Regions from separate parts of the Homo sapiens genome. Here region 1 is linked to region 2. Evidence: fine-mapped expression QTL. A gene starts in region 2. The other region holds a variant in brackets. All regions are shown on one strand. Distances are from middle to middle. Region 1 overlaps EFR3B (EFR3 homolog B). Region 2 holds the start of POMC (proopiomelanocortin).

Region 1 (2,500 bases), 40 kb after region 2:
AGGCAATAGGGGAGGCGTCACAGCTGTCAGAAATTAAATGGGGGTAAAGAAGCCCCCACTGGGGGAAGTGGGGGAAGACCGGAGAAGAAAAGATAAAGTTCTTTTTCTGGAAATCCTTAAAGATTTCCAGATGTACCACTGTGGGAAGGATGCTCTGAGCCCCATGGGCCAGGTGAGGTGTAGAACATGTGTGTCTTGATGCACCTAAGACTTCAGAAGGAAAAGGAGATGGGAGATGAAGATAGGAAAGGGAGGCAAAAAACAAAACAGAAGTGGAAGAAAGGAGAGGAAAGAGAGGGAGGGAAAAGGAAAGGCACAGTGGTTGGCTCAGGCAAGAGTCAATGATACTCAAGTCACAGGGAGTGGGCCCACATCTGGACAGAACAGGAGCCGGAGGACTCCCAGCCCAGAGACCACAGCAGCTTGTCAGTGAGATGCTATTCCAGAAACAGCCACCAGATGGCATACGAACCCCACCCCACCCCACGCCCCACCCCACGCCCCGCCCCCGCCCCCGCCCCCGCCCCCGCCCCCGTCGACCCGAGTCTAGCTCTAGTAGCCTGGGATCAACCGACCTAACTAGCCTAGTGCACAGATAGCCCAGGTGGGACAGCAACGTGGGCCTTTCTCCCCATTCCATTTCACCGAGGGGAAAAATGAGGGTGCAGGGACAGGAATGAATCCCATGCTTAGGGGATCCAGGATTAAAACCCAGTATCTGCAAGCTCTTACTGAGTGGCTGCGGGCTGGTCAAGCATGCACGTTTTCAGGGCCTGAAATAGCATCAGGAAGCAACAGAGGAAGGAAGGTCCAGATGGAAAGTCCGCAGTGATCGGAGCCATGAAAGGCATCTTTTTTTTTTTTTTTTTTTTTTTTTTTTTTTTTTTTTTTTTGAGACGGAGTCTCGCTCCGTCGCCCAGGCTGTAAGTGCAGCGGCGCGATCTCGGCTCACTGCAAGTTCTGCCTCCCGGGCTCCCGTTCTCCTGCCTCAGCCTCCCGAGTAGCTGGGACTACAGGCGCCCGCCACCA[C/G]GCTCAGCTAATTTTTTTGCATTTTTTTTTAGTAGAGACGCGGTTTCATCGTGTTAGCCAGGATGGTCTCGATCTCCTGACCTCGTGATCTGCCCGCCTCAGCCTCCCAAAGTGCTGGGATTACAGGCGTGAGCCACCGCGCCCGGCCCACAAAAGGCATCTTAAAGCCTCCTTGGCCCTGCTTCCAGGGAGACAAAGGTAACCAGACTCTTGGTTCTGTGTGTTATTACCAACAGATTTACCCACCAGGGAGCCCAGCACCAACACTGTCCTCCTTCGGTAACGCACATGTTAAGGGACACTGTGGGCTGGCACAAAGTCAGACCCATGGCTTCTAGGGAGCCAGCTTTGGACTCACTGCAGAACAAGCCACAAAGCCATGTCCCTGGCCTTGTAGCTGAGTTTTACTGACCAACCCAAACCATGTGGTTCCCAAGCAGCCCTTGGAGGGTTGATTATATCTACTGTCCTGCCCCATCCCGGCCTGCTTACCTCTCTGCCTCCTCTACATGCTGTAGATTGAAAAGCAGTGATGGAACGATCTTATCCATGTGCTGTGGGTCCCAGATATTGGCCTGCAGTTCATCATTCACCGTCTTCCTCACCACCCCTTGCAGGCCTTTGATGCCTGACATTCGAATTCTGTAAGGAAAAGGGTGAAGTGGGACTCGGAAGTCCTCTAGCCCTGAGAAGTCCAGCTTCGGTGGCTAAGAGAAGAGCACAGCTTAGGAGTCAGGGATACATTTGTCCATCAGAAGGCAGAATGGAGACCAGCTGCTACTCTCATGAGACCTCCTGGTGCTGGCAGACATGAGCCCAGGAAGCCATGTCTTTTTAATCATCTTGGAGACTCCCAGGCTGCCCTTGCCCTGGTACCATCTGGGCTCCAGCCCTAGGGTGCTGGATGCTCCAGCTCCCCATCTTTAGTACTTAGCTGGGGTTGTTCCAGCTTGGGCCCAAGATGTAAGAGCTCAAAACGCTGCCAAGAACTGATGAAGCAGAATCCGAGGCTGTGAGCAACTTGCGGGGGCAGGGGGAGGCGGATCCAGAGGGAGAGGCACAGAGCTGCAGGCTCTCTGGGCACAAAGGGGTGTCGGCTTGGAGCTAGGGTTAACCAGAGGGGAAACTGAGTAACAGCACAGCAGGAGCCCCTTTTGTACACCCCCAGTCCCTGCTATGTGAACCCAGGGTCAGCACAGCTCTGTGGGAGGGAGCCCTCTTTACTAGCCATTTATTTCAGACTGAAGTTTCTTTCTTTCTTTTTTATAAAACCTTTTTTCTGGTTATAAAATAATACATACTAATCATAGAAAAGTATAGAGAAGAGAAGATTTACCACTACCACCACCACTACCACTGTTATCTTTGTTATCAAACATAACTGTTATTGGCATTTTGATGTAATTCCTTTCTTCTGTGCATAATATATAACAGAATTAAGAACCTATTGCATATTTTATTTGTATTGGCT
Region 2 (2,983 bases):
AGAGTGAGACCCTAATTCAAAAACAAACAAACAGAATGAGAGAGAGAGAGAAGAAAAGAAAGAAGGAACCCAGTTAAAGAAGTTGGGTCCATTTGGATTTTTCCTGGTTTGTTTTATCTGCTGCCACCAGCAGCCTCCTGAAGTTACAAAAATAACACAAAGTAAAATAAGGCAAAACCACCATCTGCTTGAAAGAGTTTACAAACCTGATGGTGGTCGTGGGGTGGATGGAAGATTAAAAAAATGGGGACAGAAGTGAATTAGTGCAAGCCACTTGCACTGACAAGATGGGGATGGACTTCTGTGGAAGGCAGAGGAGGTCATGCCTCATGCCCCTGGTAGGAAAAGTGGCCAAAGAGGGCTTCAGAGAACAGGGGCTGATGGATGGGCTACATCTTGATGTGAGTCAAGCTCCTGGATGGCTGGAGAGAGGAAGGATGTTCTAGTTGGGGGAACAGCTTGGACAATGGAGACCCAAGAAAGCCATGTTCTAGCAGTGTGAATGTTGTGGATGCTGAAGTGCCAGGATGCAAGGTGGAGAACTGGGAAATGGCCCTGGAAAGGGGCCAAAGCCGGGTGATGAAGCACCTTGTCTACTGTGACGGAGCTTGGATCTCTCTTGTGGTCCAAAGGGAAAGGATTGCTGAATGTAAAGCCAATGTCACCAGAAAAGCTGAATCCACAAGAGAGTCCTGGAGTCCAAAAGAGCATCTCATGGGGAATCAGGAAAGTTCTGGCATTTGGCAGATTAAGCAAGTGTCTTGATTTGAAGTCCAGTTTAGTCCCAATACTCCCTCCCACACCCACCACATCGCACAATTTGGTTTTGTTTATTTACTCCAGGTTAAGGTAGAGTCTCTTAGCTTGGTTTGAGTGCTGTACTCTTCTCTCTGGTCTGATATTTGGAACTAAAGCCAAGCCAGAACTCCAGGGCCAAGGGGGATGTTGAAAATTGTCTGAGTCCCCAGACCACCCTGCCAGCTCATGGCAAAGGGAGGGATCAGAGGCCACAGGGAAAGCACTTCAGCTGCTCTTCACAGCATCACCCTCTCCCCATTTAATGGTTTAGGTTAACAGGACTTTTTCCTTGAGGCTTGGGACACGGAAGGGAGCCTCCCCTAAACCAGGCCCTTGGAGAGCAGGCCCCAGGGGAGCAGTGCAACTCACCTTCACACCCACAAGACGGCTCCTGACTTCTGCTCCCTCCTCCCCTCCCCAAAGTGGAACAGAGAGAATATGATTCCCCACGACTTCCACATCACAGTTTCCAAACAATGGGGAAATCGGAGGCCTCCCCGTGTGCAGACGGTGATATTTACCGCCAAATGCGAACCAGGCAGATGCCAGCCCCAGCACGCACGCAGGTAACTTCACCCTCGCCTCAACGACCTCAGAGGCTGCCCGGCCTGCCCCACACGGGGGTGCTAAGCCTCCCGCCCGTTCTAAGCGGAGACCCAACGCCATCCATAATTAAGTTCTTCCTGAGGGCGAGCGGCCAGGTGCGCCTTCGGCAGGACAGTGCTAATTCCAGCCCCTTTCCAGCGCGTCTCCCCGCGCTCGTCCCCCGTCTGGAAGCCCCCCTCCCACGCCCCGCGGCCCCCCTTCCCCTGGCCCGGGGAGCTGCTCCTTGTGCTGCCGGGAAGGTCAAAGTCCCGCGCCCACCAGGAGAGCTCGGCAAGTATATAAGGACAGAGGAGCGCGGGACCAAGCGGCGGCGAAGGAGGGGAAGAAGAGCCGCGACCGAGAGAGGCCGCCGAGCGTCCCCGCCCTCAGAGAGCAGCCTCCCGAGACAGGTAAGGGCGCAGCGTGGGGGACCCGTGCTCTTTCCCCGGGATCCCCTGTCCCCGTCCTCGCGATGCAGTCGGCCGGCTCCGGCTCCGAAGGCGGACCTGGGCGCCTCTGGCTCTCCGCGGTCCCGAGTTCTCGACAAACTTTCTGCGCCGACTGCGGCATGAGAAGCCGCCAGTAGCTGAGCTGGAGGGCCCACGTCCGGCCCCTGGGCGGACGGCCGCGAAGCTGCAGGCGCTGTCTCCAGGGAGCCGGCGGCCTCCTCTCCCCCAGGGGCTCGCGGCGGTCCGGAGGCTCCGAGAGCTTGCTAGGAGGTCTTGGGACAACCCGGTCTTTTTTTTTTTTTTTGAGACGGAGTTTCGCTCTTGTTGCCCATGCTGGAGAGCAAAGGGGTGATCTCTGCTCACCGCAACCTTCGCCTCCCGGGTTCAAGCGATTCTCCTGCTTCAGCCTCCCGAGTAGCTGGGATTACAGGCATGCGCCACCACGCCCGGCTAATTTTTGTATTTTTAGTAGAGACGGAGTTTCTCCATGTTGGTCAGGCTGGTCTCAAACTCCCGACAACAGGTGATCCGCCCGCCTTGGCCCCCCAAAGTTCTGGCATTACAGGCGCGAGCCACCGCCCCCGGCCAGCCCGGTCTTTTAGTATCTCTTGCTCCCAGTTTCCAGGATAGGTGTCACATCTTGAAAGTCAAATTCCATACACGCTATCGCAAATTAATGTTGGAAACGGGGCAGCAGAGAAAAGGATAAAAGTCATAATGAACGCCCTGCCTTCCGGATTTTTTCGGATTCAGACCCCTGAATCCTTGTTTCCTTGCCCACCTTAGCGCACCCGAGGTGGCCGCGCTATGATAATTACATGATAACTGGGTCAATTACAATGCAGAATAGTTGGGTCTCTTCTCTCCAAGACCTAGCTGGGGTTAAAAACAGGTGGCCGGGGCGGGAGCTGTCCTAGATCCTGAAACGCACTGTCTAGTTTCGGATGCCCTCAACAGAACCGGGGTGGACGGTTTATGGCGCAGATCCTGGGTTGAGGGCACGGGCAGCCATTTGGAATGATCAAGGCTCAGGTAAGGGGCGTTTCCAGCGAAGGAGAGACAGTCCACTTGGCATTTGGATTCCCCAAATTCTTCATGTTTAAATGGGGCAGGGAGGGTTCTTACAGAATGGCTGGAAGGAGCCAAGGAAA

The links. PIP is the estimated chance that this variant, and not a neighbour inherited with it, causes the effect.
Region 1: its variant is the best candidate, but not a certain one, in a credible set for the expression of POMC in whole blood (INTERVAL, PIP 0.86).

The regions. Positions count from the first base shown.
Region 1 is chr2:25,127,354-25,129,853 of GRCh38, reverse strand. EFR3B (EFR3 homolog B) reads right to left here. Exons shown (of 23, transcript NM_014971.2): 6 at 1,522-1,671. Among named protein-coding and RNA genes, the nearest start is that of POMC, 40 kb to the left of the region's middle. The variant C/G (reference allele first, on the strand shown) is at 1,030.
Region 2 is chr2:25,167,308-25,170,290 of GRCh38, reverse strand. POMC (proopiomelanocortin) reads left to right here and starts at 1,711. Exons shown (of 3, transcript NM_000939.4): 1 at 1,711-1,793. RefSeq lists cis regulatory regions at 1,409-1,434, 1,435-1,608, 1,674-1,686, an enhancer at 1,595-1,614 and a promoter at 1,025-1,837.